7 linked regions of the Homo sapiens genome follow. The protein of the gene in region 5 purifies or fractionates together with the protein of the main gene of each other region. This does not show direct contact. Each region holds a gene or a part of one and is shown on either strand. Other genes may lie near its edges.

Region 1 (4,243 bases), on a different chromosome or scaffold from region 5:
GCTCAGCAAAGGAAAACACCACAATGCAAGTAACATAAACACCCATTATCTTTTTTGAGTAAAACACGCAGGTGTTCTGGGTACTTCTTTTCAGCAAAATAACAAGCATGGAGAACTCAAAATTCTAATACTATACATATATACATATGTATATATATATAGCTATATCTGATTATCTGAAACCAATATAACCAACCCCTAAATTAGGAAAAAAATTCTTACACTTAATTTTTAATTTTTTAAAAAAAGAGACATTAAAATATCAGGAGTTCATATTTATTTAGAAGTTTCTGGGTGGGGGTAGGGACTGGGTAGATGGAAAATAGGAAGATGTTTAATGAATACCTTTTAAAAACTTTTGTATTTTTGATCCATGTAAATACATTACCTATTCAAAAAATTTCAATAAAAGGTACAGTTTGTGTTTGTTTGGGAGGGAGTATAACAAAGGCAAAACCTGGTAACTTTGAATCTTTGCACCTACCCAATAGGATGAGTGCTTTTTCCTCACCAGTACTACTAAAAGATAAGGAAGAGGCAAGAGAAAGGACGAGTGCCTTCCCCTCTACTCCAGCACATACCTAGACTTTAAGCTCCAAGGATGTGACAATTTTTTTTTTTTTGAGAAAGGGTCTCCTCTGTCACCCAGGTTACAGTGCAGTGGCACAATCTCAGCTTATCGCAACCTCCACCTCCCGGGCTCAAGTGATCCTCTCACCTCAGCCTCCTGAGTAGCTGGGACTACAGGCATGCATCACCAAGCTCAGCTAATTTGTTGTATTTTTTTGTAGAGATGGGGTTTCACCATGTTGCCCGGGCTTGTCTTGAACTCCTGGGCTCAAGCAATCTACCTGCCTTGGCCTCCCAAAGTGCTGGATTACAGATGTGAGCTATGGCACCTGGCCAGATGTGAGAATTGAGTCAACTCTGTATAGTCTGGATACCCAGTGCCTTGCACAGTGTAAACACTCTATAAGTATATGAGGAGTGTGCTAGAAAATAGCTAACAGCCTTTCTGCCTGAAATTCATCCAATTCATCTTTCACACTGCTCCCATTCAACACAGATTGACAGTTACTCTGTGTGTGGTACTCTTTCCCTCATGAAGCTTACATTCTGGAGGATATTTTCAAAATACAGAAAGTAGCCTTTTGGAAAGACAATCAGGAAGTACGTATACAATTCTGAAATGTGCATACCTCAGTAATTTCAACTTCCAAGTATCCTCTAGGAAAATATACAAAAGTGCCTAAGGATACAATATGTGCAAGGATGTTCATCTCAGTATTTGTCATAGCCAAAAAAAAAGGAAGCAACTTAAATGTCCTTGAAATAGGAAATGCCTAAAATATCAACTATCCATACTATGGGCAGCTACCTGAATTACTGAGTGAAAGAAAACCAAGTTACAGAAAAAACATACATACAGTATGATCATATGATCCCATTTTTTTGTTAAAAAAACATGAGAGAGGTTTATATGTACATAGAAAAAAGTCTGGACAATCATCCAACAAACTGTTGATGGTGTTTTCAGGAAGGAGGTGACTTTCACTTCTTACTCTGTATGTCTACATTGCTTGGATTTAACAATTTATTTTGTAACTTTAAAAAATACCAACAGGAGAATTCAGAAATTACAGGTTGGAGCCTGAAGATGTAGAATTTTGCCATATAAGGTGGGGAAGATGGCCAGGGAGCATGAAATGAACAGCATGAGCAAATAGAGAGAGGACTGACAGAACTCTGCTTTAGCTGAAAGCAGCAATGGGCAAGAACAGAAAGGCAGAGGACCTTGGCTGGTCCCTGGCTGTTGAGGGGAGAATGGCAGGTAGACAAGGGCCAGATGAAAAAAATCACCTTGAATGTCAGGATTAATACGTTTTTACTTTATACTGTTATAGCAGCAAGACGTTATTAAAGGTTTTTTGAGCAGGATCCCTTCCTTGTCCTACTTTGTAAAGATCACTTTGAGCTTTTTCCAAAGAGGCAATGGAATGAATAGAGCTAAAGGATCTAGCAAGGTGAGACGAGCACACCAGGCTCCAAACGAGGTTCTTCCAGTTACTAGCTGTGTGGCTTTGGTCAAGGCTTTAAGCTGTAAATTCCGGCGTTTCCTCCTGCTAATATTGAAAGGGAGAAAGTTAAATAATACCTTCATGATTTGAGTTGCTAAGATTAAACTAAATGAGATGACATACAGCGGGGCATGGCGCCAGCAGGTTGGTTACCACATCACTCTTTGATAGTGGGGAAAATGTGCTTCTTCCTGTATTTTACTGGAATTTGTTTCTACAACTGTATTACTTATCACGTAATGTTTACATGTCTGTCTCTTTCATTATACCGTAAGCTCCTAAAGGCAGGGCTGTCTGTGTTTTATCTACCTCTGTATCCTCAGAACTCATATTCCATATGCCTGGCTTGCGGACTCATTACACGTTTGTTGAATGAATGAATGAATGAATGAGCGGACTGGGGGAAGGAGGACAATCAGGCAGCTATTGCTGAGACCTCAGCACAAGACCCCGCGGAGCTTGGACGCGGGCGATGGCGGTCCCCTCTCAACCCTCTGGGGGCCGTCTCGGCCGCTGCTCCACGCCCCTCCACGTGGAGGCCGGCCTCCCGGAGGAACGCGCCAGGAACGCAGACCCGTGGTGAGGCCCGGGCTCCGCGTCTCCTCTGCCAGCCCCAGACGCCCGAACCCCCTCACCTGGTCTCCAAGTAAACGTTGGGTGGCTGCCAGGAATCTGGGGGAATTGCCGCCATAGCGAAGCCGGCGGCGGAATGCTTGTCTAGTAATTGCTACTTCCGGCGTCGATTAGCTGGGGACCCGTCGCTGCTGCACACTTCCGGTCCGTTCAACCCTTTCGATACCAGGATTTGGGTGGCCAAGACAAGGAAGAGGACGGTCCCTTCTTCCAATGCCGGGAAGCTGGGGTGGGAGACGAGAAGAAGCTGGGCTCAAGAACAGAGGAAAATGCAAACTTCATTCGCGGTGGTCTCCAAGTGGCGATACCGCGCCACTCTGGGCGATCTGATTGGTTCGTTTAGGCATGGAAGGCGGGAACAACCAGAAAAGCTGCGCTCTGGTTGGAGTTATGTCCTAATATTAAATTCGAAGAATTTCTTAGTCTCACAATTGGGCAGGGACGGGAAGGGGAGGCAGAGAATGAAAGAGGGTAGTTTAGAGATGCCAGTAAAGAATTTTTGTAAGGCGCTGTACGATGTACACAGTGCTTGCACTTTCTTATCTCATCTACTCCACAAAACAATTCTATAAGTAGATAGTATTATTACCATTTTTCAGATCTGAAAATAGACTCGGCAGTTAATACTTGTTTTTCCATAGTCATAAAGCAAATCTGAGCCTGCAGAATCCAAAGACGAGGAGTCTGAGGAGAAAAGAGAGGGAAGGGGCAGGAAGAAAATAGGAGATAAAGAAAGGAAGAGACAGGAGAAAACAGGACAAACGGATCAGAGCAAGAACAAGGCTTAACATTGGCTGGGATAGATGGTACCTGAAAGTTGTTAGGAGGGTTTGCGCAGGGCGCGAGGAACAGAAGCAAATTAGAGGAGCTATAATGTTTGGAGGGAGGACAAAAATGAAATAGAGTACCTAAACTTAACGCTGTAAATGCTTTGCACACCACTTAATAATGATGGTTGAATGTTTACCATGTGCCAGGCATCAAGCTAAGCATTTTATTGCGTATTTTCACGCTTAATCTTCAAAATCCCACAAGGTAGATATTACTATTCCCATTTTACTTTGAGGAAGCTGAGCCTTACAGATTAAATAACTTGCTTAAAGTACTACAGCTGGTGCACTTGTGCTCTTAACGACAGTTCAACTGTAATGTCCCTAATTGTCAACAAGGAATAAGGATGTACAAGGTTGTAAAGATAAACTAGACAGCTCCTTGAGAGAGGAGCTGGGCCTCCTTCATCTTTGTGCTCTTCTTGCACAGTACAGAGCACAGGGTGCTCAGCTTTGCTGAATGAATAATGAACGGAACACTACATTTTAAACTGATAAATGCTAAAGTATAATTTTTACACCTCCTGCAGTTTCAAGTTCATGCCCACCTTGTGGCCCTTGAGCTGGATGAAAAAGTCTTAATCCTTGGTCTGTTTAGTCTGTTGTTAAGTTGCCTTTCTCTGGACTTTATGTAGTTCTTTACTGTGTATCTCGGGAGTCATGTGCCATTCCCAGGCTCCAATGTCTGAATATTGAAAAGCC
Region 2 (3,500 bases), on a different chromosome or scaffold from region 5:
AGAAGAGCCATGAGACTGATCGATCTGTGAGTCTTGCCTGCTCTGACATTCTAGAATTTTATACGTTTAATGCACATCAAGTGGTTATACAAATGAACCAAAAAGATCAGTTGCTGAATGACTAATAGTGTGGGGGGGAAAGCCAACATTTATTAGGTGTCTGGTAGCCAGGCACTGTGCTAGCTTCTTTACATAGTTAATCCTTACAAAAATTCTACAAAAGAGAGGCATTAGAACTGTTTACCGAGAAGGGAACTGAGGCTCTGAGAAACTAGGCAATTTAAACAAGGTCACACAGTTAGTATGTAGCAAAAGAGATTTGAACCCATCCACCTGACTCCAAAACTCATGCTCTTTCCAGTGTAGTGGGGTCTTCTGTGTCTGGAATTAGTAAAGCAGTAAATTATGGGGAAAGACATCAAGAGGGTAATGATCACAAAGTGGAAAAAAATGTCAATAAAGTGATGCCTAAAGCCTGGTCATTTGTATTAGAGAATATCTGATGAGGTACAAGCTCCACAGCTGTCAGAGAGGGCAAAGGTCATTCAGGCAACCTCCCCCGCCCCCGCAACACCAGCTCCTGTATGTGGCCACTAAGTCCATTTGTTCTAAGACAGAGTGAGTGTCTTTCCAGACTTACTTTTCCCTCCCTTATTTTCTGTTAATCTTAGAAAAGACAAGCCAATGACAATAATAATTTCTACATTACCAACTTTTATTATCTTCTACTATCATCATGAACCATGCTAAACACTTCTAATGAACTATCTTGTTTACTTTCCATATCAACCCTGTGAAATACATATGATTATCCCCACTTTACAACTGAGAAAATCGAGGCTTAGAGAAGTTAATTGATAAGTGGTAGAGCACAGGTTTGGCCAGGCAGTCTAATTTCTGACTCAGGAGCCTGTACTCTCCTGTAATACTTTCCAGGATAAGCTTGTATTGCAGTCTTTCTGTCCTGATACTACACCAGCACACTCACTTGCTCTAATATGTTCTCTCTCTCTCTTACACACACCCCCCGCCCCCCACCTTTCTTGCTCTGCCTTTTCTTCCTTTCCCACTTTCTGTCCACAGAAAAGATGCTGAAGTCTTACCTGCAGAGTACTTTCTTCTGAATCATAGACAGCTGAGATGGCCCCACCCCTGCCCTTTCCAGGGCACCCATGGCAAATCCAAAAGTAATCTGCCAGGCCATTCACCTTCTGTTTTCCAAGAGAAGACTTCCCAGGCCCCTTCCATTCCTCTAAGCCACCCTACTTCTTCTCCATCACTGAAAGCAAGTGGTCACCCCAGCTCCCTGCTAGGGGGACTTCAGTAGCTTTATCTATAATGTCCCTGTGATTGTGTTGTTTTTCTGGACCATTTAGCTTTGGGTTTCATTTTAAAGCCTTCAATCTTGTATTCCAATTACCCTGCAGTCTATCTGAAGTATTTCACCTGGGGGGATTAAGGATAGTGGTACATCTGGGGCCTCAGCCTATAGAAGTGATTGAAGCCTAAACAAGAATGCATTTGGCAAGCCTGGGCTCCTCCAGACTTACGGGTTTGCAACATCCAGGCAGCCTGAAGAGTCAGAGGGCAGCTGTGGGCAAGCAGAGCCCTACTTGGGAGAAGACACTGAGTAGGGGAGATGGGAGAGTGAGAGGTTGGGCATGAAATACTTGCAGAGGAGGAAAAGAAGCTCCTAGGCAAGGAGGGCTGGAGCCACAGTGGCCACAGACACCACAACCAAGGTGCAGGGAATCCAGAATTAATGTAAGTTGATATGTGAGGACAGCATTAAAACCACAGTCAAGGTAGAGAATAGTAGGGAGAATGTGGGACTAAGCTAAGCAAACAGCTAGTCTAATAGCTGTGTGCACAAACATGTACCCCCTCACATGCACATAGACACATAACACGTGCCAACCCTGCCCCGCAGCATTCCTTTGATTTCAGCTTTCTTATGCCAAAACACATGAGCAACAACCAGTTCTTGCAGAAAGGACCCCAGCCTCACTTGCTCAGTCTGCTCTGCAGTACTGTCAGCCTTCCCCTCCCTCTTCCTGCTTCTCTGCTCAAAGCGACCCACTTTTGTACCTCCTGCCCTGTTGTATGGTGACCAGCATTGGCCTAAGCTTCAGACAGTGATCCTGGGGAATATCAGATATCCCCTCCAACTTATAATGAATCTCCCTGGACTTTGGCCATTCCATAGAGTCAGCCACCAGACCCTGGGGCCTCTTGGGGCCATTTGGAAACTCTGAAGCACCTGCTTTCCTATTGACAGCTCTCCTGTTCAACCCTACCTACTGCATGACCTACCTACAGTTCTTCCTGCTACCTGTCAGCCCAGGTGCCCTTGGAGTGGACCTCCTTCCTTATTTCCTTTAAAGCCCCATTTTTCTACCCTAGGGCTGGGAGTCTTAGTGTCTGTCTTGTTGCCCTGGAGCTGACTGGTCCACGGCCCTGGCTCAGGCGACCACACTCATCCCTCCAGGCCTCCCTCTTTCTTTAGAGGAGTCTAACACACGGGTCTGGGGCAGGTGGTGTATACCTCCTCCGACTCTGTACATCAGGGACTATTTCTCCCTACACTCCTCCACACTTGCTGTGAGCACCTCTGACGAGTAAAGTTTACCTTTGTGTTCTTTGTAAAAAGGGGAGAGACAAGTAAAGCATCCTCAGTAGCATGAAGACAGGAAAGCTCTCAGAATCCTCACCTCCCACAGACCTCCTGGCTTCTTCCTCCTCCCACACACTTCCTGCACTTTGTGGGGTGGGGGGGGGACTCACCCGGGTCCCTTCCATTCACACTGACTCTCCTATCCTTCTGTCCTACACAGTCCTGAGTCATCTTCCTCCTCCTCACCTCCTCCCCCACCTCCTCTTCATCCTCATCACCTAGTCACCATTATGATTCAACAGCACACTCACGGTGTAGGTGAAGGAAACTAAGCCTCCTGGCTCAAGAATGGGTTGGCAGACTAGTTAAGGCTCTATTCTTTGCTGTCAGAGAGCCCAGGTTTGAATTCTGGCTCTGCTATCTCATGGACACAAGAAATCATGGGCAAGCTTCAGTATCATCATCTTTGAAATGGGGAAATTAAAAAACATTTACCTCATAGGATTGTTAGCAGAACTGACTGACATTATGCAATAAAGCACTTGTACAATGCCTTGTGCATAGGAAAACATCAATAAGCAGTAGCTATGTAGCTATCTGTATTAGCTAGAAAAAATCATCATAGTTTTGATCGAGGAAGCAAGGATCAAATCTCAACTGTGAAATTACATGAGAATTTGGAGGCTCAACAGCAAGATCCATAGCCTGGCCTGGCCTGCAGTTTTGAATATCTGAGTTTCTAAATAATGGCAAACCACAAGGTAAACTTATTAGCATCGTAGGATTTTAACCACTCACCTATGAGGGAAACATGCAATGCCAGCTCTTTGCATGACGCCGAGGATTAAGGAGGCAATTGTTTCTTTATAAATCATAGTGTGGTGAG
Region 3 (3,500 bases), on a different chromosome or scaffold from region 5:
TCCTTCTACCTGGGATGCTCTTCCCAGCTCCTCTCAAGCCTCCTTTAAGTCCCTCTCAGGGTCACCTCCTCAGAGAGGCCTTCCCTGACCACCCTGGCTGAAGCAGCCCTATTCTCCCCCTTGTTTGCCATGCTCACCATCTGCGGTTACCTTGCTTATTTCCTGACCAGGCCTCACACTGAAGGTCACCTGTGTGCAGCCAGGGGCCTCGCTGTCTCTGTCACTGCTTTATCTCCAGGGTCTGAGACGGCACCAGAGACCCAGCAGGTCCTCAGTCAACCTCAAGTCAAGTGGAATGAACACAGGGCCTGGCCACACTCCTTTGGTTTTGTGTCCTTCCTTCAGGCTTCCCAGGCTGGGTCTTTGAGCCCCAGACTCCTTCTGGCCCCCGACACTCATAGCCGGGCCAGTCTGTCTCCCATAGGGCAAAAACAATCCCGCAGAACACTAGCCTCAGGCCACGTCCCTCTGAGACCATGATCAGATGAGACACAATAAGCCCTCTTCCTGATTTTTTTTTTTTTCCTTGAGATGGAATCTTGCTCTGTCATCCAGGCTGGAGTGCAGTGGCGTGATCTCAGCTCACTGCAACCTCTGCCTCCCGGGTTCATGTGATTCTTCTGCCTCAGCCTCCCAAGTAGCTGGGAGTACAGGAGTGGGCCACTACGCCCAGCTAATTTTTGTATTTTTAGTAGAGACGGGGTTTTACCATATTGGCCAGGCTGGTCTCACACTCCTGACCTCAAGTGATCCGCCCACCTTGGCCTCCCAAAGTCCTGTGATTACAGGTGTGAGCCACCATGCCGGGCCTTCTCTTCATGATTTTTGTCTAAGCACGGACAAAAACAAGGTCTCTGTGCCACCCACAAAGCTCTGCACATCTTGGTAAATGTTCCTTTTTTCCCAGTCAGCCTCACCCCCACTTTCTGATGGCAGCCAATCCAGAGCTAACCGTGGCTTCCTTAAACCCTCCCCAAGTCACCCTGCCAAACCCCATGGGTTTCCTAACAGCATCTTACTGAGATGCCCTGTGGTTCCCTACGCTGTGTGTTTTCCCTCATTGCGCCGACCAGTGAACCCCACCTGTGCACTTCCAGCTGTTCGGGTTGTCTGGGGCCATTGACACCAGAGAGAGATGGTATCTGGGCCTTCTGGACTCAAGTGCAGGTTTCCCCTACTCTTGATCTTGAACTAGTCATTTTCCTTTTAGGACCAAAATGACCTTATTTCTGTAGAGAGGTGGCTGGTGAGGCCCGTCCTATGCCACGGTAGATGGGAAGTTTGTCAATTTCAAGTGCCCTTTGGGCATTAGTTGACTTTGTCATCATCATTCTTCTCATTTACAGAGGGGGAAACAGGCCTGAAGGGGAAGCCCCACAGCTGGGAGGTGGCAGGGCTGAGGCTCCAGCTCTGGAATGACTGACCCCAGCGTCCTAGCTTTGAGCCACCTGACCTCCCACCTTGTGACCCTCAGATGTGGTAGGGGGTGGTGGAAAGAGGTCAGAGGATTTGAGCAAGGAGTTCTTGAGACTCAGTGTCCTGGAATCAGGCACCTCACCCCCAGGGCCAGCCCTCCCGGGGCTGTGAGCTGAGCTCAGGGCAGCTCTCCAAGTTCATGGTCCACATCTTGGACATTCCTGCCCAGCCAGAGCTCTCAGCCCTTTGTGCCAAGGGGATCTCAGCTGGTTCACATTCTGAGACTGTGTTCTGGAATGTGCTGCCCTTTCAGCTTAGAGAGAGGAGTTTGGGTCTTTTTGGGATAAAGCCTGCCTTGTGGGAGAAGAAAGGGAGAGTAACGCTTTGCATGTGGAAAATACTTCAACGTGGTTTTGCATCTGTGTGTTTAAACTTCAAACAACCGCGTGAGTTCGGTGCGATTATTCTTACTTGATAGACGTAGAACCACGTTCACAGGAGGCAACTCACAGGCTCAAGGACACACAACCGTGGGACTGGGACTTGAACCTTGGGTTGTGGACCCCCAAGGTGGGTTTTTGTTGTTGTTTTGAGATGGAGTTTTTCGCTCTCTCACCCAGGCTGGAGTGCAGTGGCACGATCTCGGCTCACTGCAACCTCTGCCTCCTGGGTTCAAGCAATTCTCTTGCCTCAGCCTCCTGAGTAGCTCAGACTACAGGCACACATGCCACCACACCTGGCTAACGTTTAAAATATTTTTAGTAGAGACGGGATTTCACCGTGTTGGCCAGGCTGGTCTCGAACTCCTGACCTCAAGTGATTTGCCCGCCTTGGTCTCCCAAAGTGCTGGGATTACAGGTGTGAGCCACCATGCCCAGCCCAAGGTGGGGTTTTGACCCCCCACTTTCTAGTTGCATTGGATTTCAGGCTCTGGGTGCCCACCTAGGACCCCCTGTCGGAGGTAGAGGGGCTGGGGTCTGGTGGTGGGGCCGCTGCTGACCTCTCTGCCTCTGTCCCCTGCCCTTGTGTTCCAGCCTGCGGTGGAAGCACACCTCCTCCCTGAAGGTGGCCAACGAGCCCGTCTTAGCCTTCACGCAGGGCAGCCCTGAGCGAGATGCCCTGCAAAAGGTAATGGGAGGGTGGGAGGCACCCGAGAGGTGCAGGGCATGGAGCAGAGGCCATCCCCAGCAGCCCTGAGATAGCGCCCCGTGCCTGCAGCCATCACCCGCTTCTACCCTTGCTCCCAGCCTTGGGTGGAAGCCTGGGAGGGCTGTGGGTCTGGAGTGTGGGAACAGCTGGGAGGACCAAGGTGGCAGCCTGGAGCTACTCTGGGGCTTCTCAGGCCAGGTCAGATGTCATAAACCTAGTTGTTTTATAGTTAAACATGTTTTCCAGTTAATTGCCAGCATTTTAAAAATCATGAGATTTCATATAAGTTTCAGGTGCAGTTTTTTTATCTCTGTGTCATGGGTAGACCTCACCTTCCTGCAGGGTGACAATGGCTGGAGCAGAGTCCGGCTGTCCCCGAGGGCAGCACATGTTCTCTGATGGCCACCGACCTGGCCTGGCCCCCTTCTCATTTCTGTATTGCCTGGGCACCTCCGTCTGTGGACTCTGCGTTAGGGTTTTAGATGGGAGGAAGCGAGGAAGGCGGTGACCATACCCACTCTTGTCCCTCTCCCCAGGCCTTGAAGGACCTGAAGGGCCGGATGGAAGCCATCCCATGCGTGGTGGGGGATGAGGAGGTGTGGACGTCGGACGTGCAGTACCAAGTGTCGGTATGTCCAGCGGGTGGGCAGAGCTCAGCCCCTCCCCTGAATATGTGACCTCTTTCTCTGACAGCTCGTAAGCTTATAATGTGTGGGCTCTGACTTCAAGGCCTTTATAGTGCCCCTCCCCACCCCAGATTTTGAATTCTGTGGACCAGTAAAACTCCCAAAGCAAAGGACGGCACCCACACTGCATCCAGCCCATAGCGGCATCCTGTGTCTGGGCAAGAAAGGCCATGAGGGGGCCACACAGCATCTTCTGTTATTCCTCATAGATTTCTTGCCAAGGGGGTTTGGGAGCTAATGACAAAAAGC
Region 4 (3,149 bases), on a different chromosome or scaffold from region 5:
AGCCTGAAGGTCAGGCAGAGGTGACAGCATAGGGCCCTCTCAAGTCTTTTTAAGCACATGCCCAGCCCTAGGCATGTGTATGGTCTTTCAGATTCCCAGGAATATGTGGAATCTCTTTAAAGTCCTTATTCTCACCCAAAGAATCTTATTTCCTAGCCTTTCCTCCTGAAGCTTTTCAATTTGTCTCCTGTTTGCTCCAAATGTTATTCCTTCCCCTAGGCATGAGCCACTAATACACTGACCTTGAAACGTCTTTCCAGGCTGCCATCTTCACTTTAGGAGAGCTCCAAATTAGGCAAAATAAAAGAAAGGCATTTGAACCAGTCCTTCAGGGAGCAACAAATCAAATCAAAATCAACATACTTCTTGAAAATAAGGTCTAATCTGCTACCTCCAGTGACAGGAACCTATACAGGGAATGAGGGATATTGTTTTTGATGCTGCTGCCATGCTGGGGAGTGGGGGATGGGGCCAGGGTAAGCTAAAACACAACAAAGCTCTCTTACTAAATCCAGCTTTTATTCTTAGGTATTCACCTGATTGCTGTAAACTTTCAATTCGTTTCCAGAGTTCCCATAAATTTGAGTTTTTGCCACCTTATTTGCTGCTTTTGTGGAAGGACAGACTTGTGGAATTTCCTATTCCATTTCGTTGACCACATTAAAGTTTTAGAAGCTCTCCTCTAGTCTACCCTTCATTTTAAAAAGTCAAAAAGACAGGAAGTGACATATCCAGGGTCACACAACAAATCAGGGGCTGAGCTGAGATCAGAATAAGGATGTTTGACTCTCAGGTCAGAGCTCTTTCTGCTTCAGGACTTCATCAGCTCTTAGTGTTGAGAAGGAGTCAGGCTCAAGCTAAACACCAATATTAGGCCAAGGGGCAGCTTTCCAAGGAGTAGGGGCTGAGGGTAAGAGTCCTTGGTATACCTGGTGGGCTTGACTGACTCCTTTACTGACAGGGGACCCTACATGAGTCCAGGTTGTGGACTGAGTAATGATGTCCCTATCCCTTAGAAAAACACAGGCAGAGAGCTTTCAGATTTGATGGGGGTGAAAATGTAAACCTTTATCTTTCTGAGGACATGTATTTAGCTTGATGTTTCTAGGTCTCATTCCACTCCATCTCGGCCAGGGCAGGAAAGAGCCTACAGCAGAAATAAGGAGCCAGGTCCTAAGGTAGGGCTGTAACTCCCTGCCAAGGCCAACAGAAAATGGGCATGGCATGGCATTAAACCACCACTTTGACCGTGGGCACCTGCAAAGGTTCATCTTTCAGCTCCCTCTTCCCAAAGCTAGGAGTGCCTCATCTCATCTCTCATCACCTGACTGAATTCCAAGCAGACTGTGCCATCTGCTCACCTGCCCTCTGGAGGAACACCTCTACTTTTGCGGTGTTCTCTGTGTGAGCACAGTAGTATTTAGATAAGCGTTAGATTACAGCAGGTTACAGATGCAGTTTCCCAGTCCCCACACCTGCTCAAAATGCATGAGGGTCTGACCGCAGGAACTGCTCTTTAGCAAGCTCCCCTGATGATCCTGATACACACTCAGGCTTGAAAACCACCACTTTAGGACCATCTACCCAGCCACAGGGTGAGCACTCCAAGGTTTCTTTCTTAAATTTTGCACCTGAGACAAATGCCACCAGGACTAGGGTGAGGCGAGTGAGGCTATCTGTCTCAGGTGCAAAACTATTTAATAGTGTTTCCTCCAGCGCCCCCACAGCTGCTGAAAATTCTCTCAGGGCTGAATTCATCTGGTGCTTCTATTTTAGAAGTCAGACTAGATGTGTAGCATGGACTGGCCTTGACTAACATATCCAGGAGGCAGGAGAAGACCCATTGTGTTCTATCCCAGAAAGATGACCTGTAAGGTTGCACATCTTTCTCCCTATCTTTTTTGTCCTAAGCATAATAAACAGTGTTGATCCCAACCTCCCACTGACCTTGGAAGGCAGTAGGTGCCTTTGCCTCTGGGAAGATCATGAGGCATTCATGCAGTCCTCCAGCCCATACTTAACATGGGTTGGATCTCTTGGGAGTGACCATGAGGGCAGCGAGAGGAACAGGAAGGCAGGGAGAAACAGGACTAGGACAAACACAGGTGTCAGGTCCACAACTATGCCAAATGTCATGCCCAGGGTCAGGTTCCAGCCCATGCTGAGGTTCGAGGGGACTGGGTGGATGGGCGATAGCTGAAAGAAAACCTGGCGGGCCATAGGCAGGTAAAATGTAGTTTTATTCAGCAGCTATCTCATCAGCAGCTCTCACACTGTCCACCTTTACCTAGGCTGTCTTCTCCAGATCTGCAGCTCCTCTCAGCAGCCAGCTCTGTGGCTCCTGCCACCCCCATGCTTGCAGGTGCACTCCCTGGCTACAGGGTCAGCGGCTTAACTCTCCCTCTGGGCACAAGCTGAGCCATGTCCTGGCTCCCCTCTATCTATCTGCCAGATGGTCACTCTCCCTTACAGGGGTCAATAGCTTCACTCTCTCTGGGTGCTAGTGCACACCACGTGGAGCCATGCCCATCCGAGCCCAAGAACATCTGTACAGCGTCAGCAGGGCAGTTATACCTTTTCCAAACAATAGTGGCTTTGAGCCAAGTATGAACTTACACAAGCAGGTTATATAACAAGTGGAGTATACGCCTGTGACCTAAACTCGCTGAGTCACTCTGGCCTGGATATCCACCTTGGTCTATTCCTTGACCAAAGCACATCCATGTACTTTACAACAGGTGGTCTCCAAGTGTGTAGACCAGGGTCTCAAACCCAAAGGCCTGCAGGAGCCAAATGGGTGACATGGGCTTAGTGTAATACAAGACGGAGCCTATAGCAAATAAGGAGTACAGGCCTAAAGGGGCAGCTGCAACTCAGCTCCAGCCATGCAGGAATGCAAGCCCCATAGTGCCAGAATTTCTGAGTTTTCAAGAGAAGCCAGAATTCCAGATTTTTAAAAATATGAAATCTCTCAATGTTTAAATGTTGGCAACAAATTCAAATGTCTAAAAACACTTTGGAAACCAAAGTAAATGTGTCTGTAGGTGCAATATTGCCTGCTGGGCACCAGGCTGGGAACTTTGGAGTAAACAGGGCAAGGTAATGTCACAGAATATGGTCACATCAGAGCACATTGGTTCTAGGCCCCA
Region 5 (3,500 bases):
AGTGTTCTTATAACAATAGCAACAAAAAAATCCCAAACCGCCCCCAAAACCAAAGAGGCACAATGATTAAACTCACGAAACTGTGAGCGTTAAATATGTACAGCTTTTGCTGATCAATTATACCTCAATAAAGCTATTTAAAACATACAAAGAACAGGTAGACTTCTTCTGGTGCCACCAGCTCTGTCATTAGCCGTGTGACCTTCGGCAAATCCCTTACCCTTTATGGGTTTCAGTTTTATCATTCTGAAAATAAGTAACAAGCCTCTACTACCACTGTGTACCCCTCATGCTGGAAGACTGTGACGTGGGGACCCTGCTGAAAAGCAAATCTTTCATGGGTAGATCTTAGCAGTGCAGCAAGGATTTTGGAGTGGACCAGAGATCAGAGGGATGAGAAACTCTGAATATGCAGCATTTATGATGCACCTGCTAGGTGCAGGATGGCGAGAAAGCCTGACACGGGCCTGCTGATGGCAAGGTAACCAACACCCCCAGCCTGCATGTGGGAGGGAGGCAGAGGGGCCCAGAGGATGGGAGTAACTGAAAAGGTGATGGGGCTGGGCGCGGCCTGTCATCCCAGAACTGAGAGGCCGAGGTGGGTGGATCGCTGAGGCAGGCAGATTCCTTGAGGCCAGGAATCAAGACCAGCCTGGCCAACATGATGAAACCCTGTCTGTACTAAAAATCACACCTGTCATCCCAGAACTTTGAGCGGCCGAGTTGATTGGATCACTTGAGCCCAGGGGTTTGAGACCAGCCTGGTTAACATGGTAAAACCCTATCTCTACTAAAAACACAAAAATCAGCCAGGTGTGGTGGTGCATGCCCGTAATATCAGGTACTCAGGAGGCTGAGGCACAAGGATTGCTTGAACCTGGGAGGCAGAGGTTGCAGTGAGCCAAGATTGCACCACTGCACTCCAGCCTGGGCAACAGAGCGAGACTCTGTCTCAGAAAAAAAAAAAAAAAAAAAAAAAAAGAGAAAGAAAAGGAGCTGGCCCAAAGCTGGGTGGTGATGAGCCTCCTCTTGGGCCTTTGATGGCAGCAACGCCTCTCTGACCTCCTGGGGATCCACCTTGCCCCACGGAGAGGACACCTGGGGGCATTTCTTCTATGTATTCCTCCTGCTGGCCCTGGCCTTTAACACTGGGCTCTGCTCTCAGTTCTCAGTTTAGATTTGGCCCTGAACTCGAGATTTCTGACATCCCTTGGGGGCAGCTCCAAGCACCCGCCGTGTGTGATGCCTGGGACTCACTTGGCCTCTTTGCTGTTGCTGGTGTCCTCTCCTGTTTCAGGCTCATGAGATCATTCCCTATCCTCCCATCGTTCATGGCCCCTCGTGTTCAACTTAGAATGAATGCCTCGGGTGGACAAATACAGTGGAAAAATGAGGTTGAAACAGCCAGAGCTTTGAAACGCAGAGGGTTTGACAGTGGCACCGGGGACTGGTATTCTGGAAGGCACATAGGGTGGCCAACGTTTAATTCCAAAGCCAAGGTGAAAAGGTTCAACTAACATGCAGTGTGATCCTTGCCTCCACAGAGGCGTCGGGGGTCTGAGCTTAGAGGGGAAGGTGGCTCAATCACCCACCTCTCCAGGACAGAAGCCACTGCTCAGTTTGAGCAGGGCGGGTGGGTAAAGTGTAGGTACAGGAAAAACAGCCCAGTTGTCAATTTCCCCCATCAAGCGCAAATGCAACAATGAAGGTGCACAAACACTTCTCTACTTACTGGCATAGTTTTGTCTCCAAAGAAATAAATGGTCTTATAACCGTCATTTTCCACATGTCGCAGACAGTATCTCTTGTCCCATCCATCAGGAAAGACATCAAAGCTGATCTGGCCTCCTGCCGGGTGGGGACGGGGCACACAAAGGCAAAAGGTGAAAAAGGGGCTAATGATATGTCACTGAAAAAAACAATTTACTCTTTTGTCAGTTAGTGGGTTGCCAAGGTTGATTTTCAGTACTCTAGTTTGCTACTTAGACTACTTCATGCATAGGTTCTAGAAATTAATTCTACATTGTTTTTTTCCAGCATTATTTCACATAGGTCTAAAATTGAGGCACAGAATGCCAACTCAGAGTGAGAAATGCATTTGCGTTTAAGCGCCCTGTCAAGCGTGTGGTTTAAAGGAAGCATGCTTATGAAAAATCGGATACCAGCCTCATTCTGCTGTGCTTGTCTCGGGCTTTAACACACCCTCAGGGGGAAATGCCCGGAAGCAGGTTGCATCCGGCATATTTTGCGGGAAAAATGAGAATCTTCACTGAAGGTGATTTACAGGCAGTGCTCACGGGCAACAAAAACCCTTTCAAAGCTTTGTCAGAAAGATGTCCATCTCACAGTTCAGGAAGACAAAAAACCCACCCACTCATCTGTTAAATATAATCCCTTTGCCATTCCAGTTTTCCTACAACCTCTACCTTGATGAAAGCTAGTAAAATGAGGAGGCTTTGAGCAATGACTCATTAGCACTGACAAGAGAAATCGGTGTGCAAAGCATTTGGCAGGAATATTCTAACAAAAGACAAGCCTGAGATGTCCGTGCTGCAGGAAGAACTCTGCATTAGACACCAGAAACGTTCACACACTGGCTGTGTAAACAACAGCTTTGTGAACTTGGACAAGTCTCTTCTCCTTTCTGGGCCTCAGTTTCTTGATCTGTAAAAGCCACCCAATTGGCCCCTAAGGTTCCTTGCTGTTGAAACATTCTATGATTCCAAAACATCGGTCTAGTTTACCTAAGGGGTTCAATTCCATGTCTCCCTTATGGAGTTCACTATAGTGCTTCTCTTCTGCCCAAAGGTGTGAGAAGTTCCTACTCTTTAGTAATCAAAGTGCTCCTCTTTTGATGAGAGGAGTCCAGGTAGGAAGAATGCTGTTGGGTAAGAATTTAGAACCAAGCCCAACAGCGTGTAAGCTGTTTCTTGACTAGGCAAGTCCTATTATGGCTAATTATGCAGAAAAGAGAGTGGTTGGTTTTTGTCTATAGACTGGACTGCTCATTTAATCTTCCTGCCCACCTAAAACTGCACATACTTCATTATCAATAGCTCACTGGCCCACAACAAACTCTGGGAAATGGGTATCCAAGTTTGGAACACAGGCAATATATACAATACCTATGGAAAACGTGAGGCCTTTTCCAGCAAACTCTTTCCGTAGATCTGCTACAAACTTTTGTCTTATATTTTCTTTCTGAGAAAAACAAAAAGATACCAATTGTTTCTTGTATTGCAGTTTAGAAAGCACAGTTTTAACTACTGGCCACAAAGGTAGGATTATCTTATTGATTTATTTATTTGTTTAGTTTTTGAGATGGGGGTCTTGCTCTGTTGCCCAGGCTGGAGCGCAGTGGCATGATCATAGCTCACAGCAGCTTCAACCTCCCAGGCACAAGTGATCCTCTTACCTCAGCCAAACAAATAGCCGGGACCACAGGTGTGTGCCACCATGCCCAGCTAATTTTTTTTTTTATTATTTGTAGAGATGAGGTC
Region 6 (3,773 bases), on a different chromosome or scaffold from region 5:
GCCAATATTTTCCAAGCAGAGATGGGATTGACTCCCTTCTCCTAACCTCCCCCATAGCTTCTTTCAATTATTTCTCCTTGGTGGGTGCCCTGACCACCCCTCTCACAGGGATGCCTCCTCCCCAGGCTCCAGGAGCTCTGACCCTTGCGCTGCTGTAGGGAGCCTGTGGATTGCTGGTCATCCTGTCAATATCGCTTACCTTCCAGAGTTCATGCTGTGCGAGTTCTTCCTGAAAGAGCTAAAGAGGCACTAACTGATCCACACCTGTCACCTGCTCCTTCTCTAGAGGCTGAAAACTCTACTGCAGTCCCACTATAGTATGTCTATAAATGATTATTATTCCCCCACTCCTAACTTACAGGCAAATCACACAGTTTTTAGCCCTGTTGAGCCAGAAGAAAGCACACACACACACACACACACACACACACACTTCTGAGCCAGAAGAAAACACACACTACAGAACAGAGTAGGTAAAGAATCTTTGAGAAAACATTCAATTATTTCAAAATGATAAAAATTTATTGTCTTTCTGGCCTATGGACTCAGCTGTAGTTGACTGAAGTCGCTAAACAGGACGGATTTAAGTAGAGGTGATATGTCCAGTCACCGGCATAGAGACGTCCTCTGCGTCACCATCCACACACAGGGCTTCTGGTAGACATCAGGCAAAGCCCTCCATGTTAATATTCATCTGAATATGGATAATTAGGGTGGCTAGCAAAACTGAAAAGAGAATAATGTATAATATAAATGCAATGACTCCATTACTAGGGGAGTAGTAAAGTGATTTCAATGAAGCTGTCATTAGTATGAATGTTAAGTTGTCTGACTAGTTGTAGAATCTGCCTTTCTTACCTTTATGAACATGGCTTCATAATACAGTATTTTCAAAATAATAAATTATTCAATCATATTCCCTTATCTGGAAGTTAACACGTAAAACACACAAAGTCAAATATTCAAGTATATTCCTGTACATCTGTCAGCAGAGCAGAGATACTCTGATTATACTTTCTTTTGTTACTTTACTTATTACCTGCTACTGTCTACTGTATGCAATATATTTTGTAAGATTCAGAAATGTAAATTGTTATATATGATATAGGGTCTAATATCCAAGGAGCTACAGTGCATTAAAAATTCTTATATAGAAATAACATGAAATATAAAGGAACAGATAAACACCAACTTATTACATTTTTAATGGATGATAAGAATTACTCATGCTCGCTACTCTTCCTTTCTTTTACATGGTTTCCTTTTTTTATTTATTTTCCTTGAAACTAAAAAAATATTAACAATGATATCTACCAATTTTTAAGCACTTATGAAGGGCCACTGTACTTATGCTTTTTCACACACTATCTCACCCTATCACTTGTTAAAATTTCCACTGCCAGCAGTTACATAACTTCCTGCTTTTTTTTTTTGAGATGGAGCCTCACTCTGTCATTCAGGCTGGAGTGCAGTGGTGTGATCTCAGCTCACTGCTGCATCCTTTGCCTCCTGGGTTCAAGCGATTCTCCTGCCTCAGCCTTCCAAGTAGCTGGGATTACAGGTAAGTGTCACCATGCCTGGCTAATTTTTATATTTTTAGTAGAGACAGGGTTTCACCATGTTGGCCAGGCTGGTCTCGAACTCCTGACCTCAGTCGATCTGCCCACCTCAGCCTCCCAAAGTGCTGGGATTATAGGCGTGAGCCACTGCGCCCGGCCATAACTTCCTGCTTTTCCTGCATTTACATGAATGACCGTCTATGAATCCTAGAACCTTAGACCATGAAGGAATAGTAAAGATCTTTTATCAGCTACAAATTATATACAACAATGGAGCTTCTGCCTCCACACTCACACTCCTTGATTTTAAATTTTTTTAAATTCTCTGCCTTGAGAGCTCCATATTGCAGGAAATCAAGGACAAGCGCTCCTATTCACTCCACTAAGGAAGGCTTTCTGGAGGCAAAAGCAGAGTTTGGGGCATGAACAAACATGCAAGGAGAAGGAGGAAAAACATTTGAAATAATAAAAGATGCTGAATTGACAGGATCTAGCAAGCAATTCCATATGAAGGAGGTGGGAATTGGCACCTGGACCACAAAGTTGATGGAAATGTTTTTGATTTGATAAGGAGCTGAGCAGGTTTGGGACAATGTGATATAAGCACAGATTTGGAAACATCTAATGAAGTCACATGGGCAGTATCCACAGCATGTCCAGTGGTAGAAACACCAGGCCTATATGGAACGTGCAGACTTGGCAATGATGTTGGCTGCTCTGGAAAGTTCCATGGAGTCAGGAGAGCAGAGGCACAGGTTGACCCATGCTGATCCCTGCCCACTCACCCTGCCAGAGAACAGAGCTCTGGAGTGAATCCAGCAGGAGAGTTCCAGTCTCACCTCTGACTCACATTGGCCTCTGTCCCTCTGGTATGGAGGTCACTCTCAACACCCATCCTACATTCCTTCTCCAGAAATAAATTAGATCACCCATTTACAAAGGAAACTTACCTATCACTGTTAAAATAGTGGAGATTTCTGTCTAGGCCATCTATGGCTTTCATGTCCTCTGCAGTCAACTGGAACTCAAAAACCTATCAGAAATAAAAAACTTTTATTATTTTTAGATTGCCAGTTGTGAATCCCCAAGTATATTAGACAGTAGGGTGCAGAGACAATACTTAAAATATTGGTAAGTTTTAAACAGTTATAGAAGTCAGCTCTAAACACTCAGGTGGGTCAATGAATAGCTCACGAAAAATAAGCAGAAATCCATTCCTAGATATTATGTATTGAAACTGTGCAACTCTGCAGACAAAGAGAAAATTTCAACAGAAAATGGAGAAGAAACAGCGCTGACATTGTGCCCACATGATAGGGTCACATTGTGCCCACATGATAGGGTCATGTACCTAGAAGGCCCACAAGAATCTAGAGGCAAATTTTTAAATAACAAGATTATATATTAAGTTTGATAGATATTGTTGAATTTCTATATCTCTTTAATAAACAGGTATAATGCAAACAACATTTGTTTTCAACATAATTCAAGGCAGGAATTGTCTAATTACTAACAATTTCATGTCTAAAGGAAACAGATACAGGCTTGAAGTGTATCTTACTCTCTAAATTTGAGAGACTTTAAATATCAAGAGGATGCCACTAATTGCTAACACATGGAATTGAATAAATCTATAAATTGACTAAATCACTCTAATAGTGATACAGAGAATGAGAGAGAGAGAATAAAAAACATGAACAAGTTAACAATTAGTCTAGGTAAAAGGTGTTCATTACATTTTTCTTTTAACATTTCTACACATTAGAAAATCCACAAAACAAAAAGGAAAACGTTATCAAGAGGTTCTAATAATTTTCAGTATTCTATGGATAAATATTTAAAAATACATATGGTTTAATGGAGAATGTTATAAAATTAATGATATATATATTAAAAGGCCATTTAAATAGTTGGAAATTCATCATAGGTTGAAAGTCTCAATATTGTCAAAAAGTTCTCTTCACAGTGAACTGCAGTTTCAATACAATATCAACCAAAGACTAAAATATGTACTCTTTCATGGATGTTGATGTTTCAAAATTTCATATAACAGAATAGTCAGTCAAGAATAATCAAGATATTATCAAATAAAATAAAGAGTTAGAAAAAAAGTTGTACCATTCTGGTAGCAAGACCTTTCATTATTTAGACAGTACAGAAAAGTAAATAAGTCAATTGAAGACAAAAGAGAGGCAAGAATATTATTTGTGAATG
Region 7 (3,500 bases), on a different chromosome or scaffold from region 5:
AGGCCATGGAGCTAGCCTTTAGTCAAGTCCAGCTCAGCTCTGATGATAAAGCCTTTGCTCTGATTGATTTTCCATTGGCTCTGACAAAAAGAAACTGGAGATTTGATTGTGGGTGTTGAAGGGAGTGTAGGTATGGTTTTTCTGCTTATAAATGTAATATTAATACGTAGTCATCATAAAATATATTTGCAGAAATACTGTAAAAATGAAAGCCCTCCATAAACATCCTATCATCCCAGAGATAACCACTGTTAGAGTTAGCATAAATTTCCCCAGAGTTCTTTTCTGTGTACACACTTCCTTAACCAAAGTAAGTACATACCATACATGCTGTGTTTCATGCTTATTTGTTTAACATGTCCCAGACAGTTTACATGTCAGTTTATTCTCTTTAACATTGTATGGATGGACTGTAATTTACTTAACAGACCTTATCATGGTCATATGGTTTACTGCCAGTTTCCCAGGCTACCGGGAATATCCTTGTTCCTGTATCTTTGAGTATTTGTGTATTTCTGTAGGATAAATTTTCACAAGTAGAATTGCTGAGTCAAGGGGAATTTTAATGGTATTACAAAGTTAAGAGAGATTAAGCACCTTTTCAAATGTCTGTTTCCCATTCTTATATTCTTGTGTAAACTGCCTGCTCATAGTCTGTGTCCATTCTTTGGTCAGCTGGGAGATGAGTGAAACTCAGGGGTGAAGGCTGCACTTTTGAGCATCTGCTTACCTTGTGATCCCATGCCCACCCAGCCAGTTCTGTCTCTGTGACCTCTGGGAAGGAGCATCCCCAAGAAATATCTGTCCAGTCACAGACCCAGTTAGACCTGGACCAGAAAGCAGACGTGTTGAACCCCTGTGATCGCCTAGGACTGTGACTCACCCATACCTAGGAGTATGAGATCAAAGTCCCACCCTGCTGTTAACCAGTTGGGTCACCATAAACAAGTCTCCAAGGCTAGATTTCTTCATCTATACAAGGAGAGGATTGAACTGATGGCATTCCACTTCTAGTTCTAACACTCAGAGCCAAAAATCCATGGAGGAAGAGGAACCTCACAGGCAGAAAGCTGGACATGGGGCTTCAAGGCATTGCCAAGGCAGAGATACTTACAGATGCCAGGATCACTGCAGGTGAGGGTCCCATCTTCAGGGACCAGGTGGGAGTTGTACCTCTGGTTGGGCAGCACCTCTGTCATCTCCCCTGCCCGCTGCCTCTCTCCCATCTTGGTCTTCAGGAAAATCCCAAAACCAACATCCGCTCCATCTGACATAAACTGCCACCTGCAGGGGATATCACCAATTGAGACATAATTCTGTCTGTGTGTGCCCTCTCCGGGGTCCTGGCACCAGGGCTTCTCCTATTCCAGCCCACCTATCAGGACCTATAGATGAAAGCTCGGGTCTCCTGGAAGGGCCCAGGCCCCTACCTGAGGACACAGCCAGGGAAGAGGATCTCATACTCCACTTGGTGGGAGGAGCCACGGGAAATCTGCACGCTGTGTTCATACTGCTGTTTCACCTGGTCTCGCACATAATACTTCCTGGGGATGTCACCCCCGTAGTTGATCTAGAAGCATGGCATGGAGTGAACTGGAATGTGCATTTGAGCCAGGCATCCCTGTTCACCTCTAGCCTCTGGCGGCTCATACCTTGGATTTGCACTTGGGGTTTCCATCAGGGTCAGTCATGGTGCCCCCATACTCCACAGGCACCTGGTCAGGGCTGATATGTTTCAGTAAAACCTCCTTCCAATTTGCTGGCAGGAGAGGGAAGGAAGGATAAAGATGTATCTCAACACTAGGTAAGATTTCGCCATAACCCTAGTGGTCTACACTAAAGAGGCAGAAAAAACCCATCCATTGCACCCCACAACACCCCGCCTCAAATTCCTGCATTAGGAGCACACAGTGCATGCATAGTACTGCAGGGGGTTCAGCAGGAGCCAGAGGATGGCTCTGCCCCAGGCCAGAAATCGAGACCCTGGTTCCTGCCCTCGTGTCTGAACAGCTAAGTGACATTCTTGCCCTGCCTGGTTATGGTGGGAGTGAAATGAACTAAGTACTTGAGAAGGCTTTTCTGTTTGAGACAGAGTCTCACCCTGTTGCCTAGGCTAGAGTACAGTGGCGCAATCTTGGATCACTGCAACCTCCGCCTCCCGGGTTCAAGTGATTCTTCCGCCTCAGCCTCCTGAGAAGCTAGGACAACAGGCGCCCGACACCACACCCAGCTAATTTTTTGTATTTTTAGTAGAGATAGGGTTTCACCATGTTGGCCAGGCTGGTCTCGAACTCCTGACCTCAGATGATCCACCCACCTCGGCCTCCCAAAGTGCTGGGATTACAGGCATGAGCCACTGCGCCCGGCCGAGAGGGCTTTTTAAACCATAAAGTGCCTTATACACGTTAAGAGTATGTTATTACCCCATGGAGGTGATACATTGAAGTACAGCAGGAGAGGGGACAAAGAAAGGGTAGAAGGACATTCCATGCAGAGGAAACAGCACGTGTGGCGGGCAGGAAGGCCTGAATGCACATACCCTGTCCTGATTATACTGAACACTGTGAGGGCAGAACTATGTGTCTTTCCCCCACCTTCCCCTACAGCTAAGTCGTGACTTAATAAGTAAATGCATCTCTGTAGAGTCACCCCTTAAATGGATTCTTGGCTTTACCCCAGCCACCATTTCACTTCTGCTCCCATTGTTTTCAGCTGTTGAGCCACCAGTAATTTGGCTCTTTTTTTTTTTTTTTAAAATACCCAAGCTCCTTCCTGTCTAGGAGAGTTTGACTCTAGCACAGCCAATGCTAAGAACCACTTCACCAATCCAAATTCACAAATATCAGCCAGGTACAATATTTTGATACTAAAACCTGCCTATGCCTACTATATAGAGCATATATAGGCAGCAGCTCCAGGCCCTGGGGTACAAGCCAGTGTCATGCTGGCTGGAGACCCGCAGAAACTGTCCAGAGTCTGCCAGCCCTCAGATTTTTAGGGACCAAAGACCATGCAACTCCTGGGAACACAGTGTCTGTGGTCTTGGGGTGATTTAATCTGCACTGCTAAGCTCCAGTGACCAGCCCGAGTGAATCTCCCCCCTCTGTTGAAAATTCTGTATCTTCCCAGCCTGAGGCAGGTTTGGTTGAAAGAGTTTTAGGTGTGGTAGGGGAACAGACTGAACCTCCTACACAGCTCTGCTGCCAGGAAACCAAACCGTCTCATGCCCATGGTGGGTGGTAGCAGCAGAAAAAACAAAAATCATAAAAACCTCTTGCTCAGCTTTTATAGTTCTTCCCCCAGTCCAGCTGGAGAGTTGGGATAAGGCCAGGAGGATTCTTCCCATCTTACAGAGAGAATAACTGAGGCAACAAAAAGCAGAGAGCTGGCTGGGTGCAGTGGCTCATGCCTGTAATCCCAGTGATTTGGGAGGCTGAGGCAGGAGGATTGCTTGATCCCAGGAGTTCAAGATCAACCTGGGCAACATAGTGAGCTCCCGT

The links.
Region 1: the proteins of PMM2 (region 5) and PPIL1 fractionate together in Homo sapiens (co-fractionation; one large-scale study listed by BioGRID). This does not show direct contact.
Region 2: the proteins of PMM2 (region 5) and TAGLN3 fractionate together in Homo sapiens (co-fractionation; one large-scale study listed by BioGRID). This does not show direct contact.
Region 3: the proteins of PMM2 (region 5) and ALDH4A1 fractionate together in Homo sapiens (co-fractionation; one large-scale study listed by BioGRID). This does not show direct contact.
Region 4: the proteins of PMM2 (region 5) and ANXA11 fractionate together in Homo sapiens (co-fractionation; one large-scale study listed by BioGRID). This does not show direct contact.
Region 6: the proteins of PMM2 (region 5) and AKR1C3 fractionate together in Homo sapiens (co-fractionation; one large-scale study listed by BioGRID). This does not show direct contact.
Region 7: the proteins of PMM2 (region 5) and SEC14L2 fractionate together in Homo sapiens (co-fractionation; one large-scale study listed by BioGRID). This does not show direct contact.

Annotation. Positions count from the first base shown.
Region 1 is NC_000006.12:36,872,004-36,876,246, forward strand, and holds the start of PPIL1 (peptidyl-prolyl cis-trans isomerase-like 1), read right to left. Parts: upstream 2,801-4,243; 5' UTR 2,770-2,800; coding exon 2,714-2,769; intron 1-2,713. UniProt on the Homo sapiens protein: Involved in pre-mRNA splicing as component of the spliceosome. PPIases accelerate the folding of proteins. Catalyzes the cis-trans isomerization of proline imidic peptide bonds in oligopeptides. Catalyzes prolyl peptide bond isomerization in CDC40/PRP17.
Region 2 is NC_000003.12:112,001,922-112,005,421, reverse strand, and holds part of TAGLN3 (transgelin-3), read right to left. Parts: intron 1-3,500.
Region 3 is NC_000001.11:18,889,056-18,892,555, reverse strand, and holds part of ALDH4A1 (delta-1-pyrroline-5-carboxylate dehydrogenase, mitochondrial isoform a precursor), read left to right. Parts: intron 1-1,664; exon of another isoform or gene 1,665-1,862; intron 1,863-2,450; coding exon 2,451-2,544; intron 2,545-3,101; coding exon 3,102-3,194; intron 3,195-3,500. UniProt on the Homo sapiens protein: Irreversible conversion of delta-1-pyrroline-5-carboxylate (P5C), derived either from proline or ornithine, to glutamate. This is a necessary step in the pathway interconnecting the urea and tricarboxylic acid cycles.
Region 4 is NC_000010.11:80,150,389-80,153,537, forward strand, and holds the end of ANXA11 (annexin A11), read right to left. Parts: 3' UTR 501-3,149; downstream 1-500. UniProt on the Homo sapiens protein: Binds specifically to calcyclin in a calcium-dependent manner. Required for midbody formation and completion of the terminal phase of cytokinesis.
Region 5 is NC_000016.10:8,811,339-8,814,838, reverse strand, and holds part of PMM2 (phosphomannomutase 2), read right to left. Parts: intron 3,202-3,500; coding exon 3,126-3,201; intron 1,849-3,125; coding exon 1,733-1,848; intron 1-1,732. UniProt on the Homo sapiens protein: Involved in the synthesis of the GDP-mannose and dolichol-phosphate-mannose required for a number of critical mannosyl transfer reactions.
Region 6 is NC_000010.11:5,104,414-5,108,186, reverse strand, and holds the end of AKR1C3 (aldo-keto reductase family 1 member C3), read right to left. Parts: intron 2,593-3,773; coding exon 2,510-2,592; intron 727-2,509; coding exon 684-726; 3' UTR 501-683; downstream 1-500. UniProt on the Homo sapiens protein: Cytosolic aldo-keto reductase that catalyzes the NADH and NADPH-dependent reduction of ketosteroids to hydroxysteroids.
Region 7 is NC_000022.11:30,414,018-30,417,517, reverse strand, and holds part of SEC14L2 (SEC14-like protein 2), read right to left. Parts: intron 1,760-3,500; coding exon 1,653-1,759; intron 1,571-1,652; coding exon 1,431-1,570; intron 1,285-1,430; coding exon 1,115-1,284; coding exon of another isoform or gene 1,017-1,114; exon of another isoform or gene 543-1,016; intron 1-542. UniProt on the Homo sapiens protein: Carrier protein. Binds to some hydrophobic molecules and promotes their transfer between the different cellular sites. Binds with high affinity to alpha-tocopherol. Also binds with a weaker affinity to other tocopherols and to tocotrienols.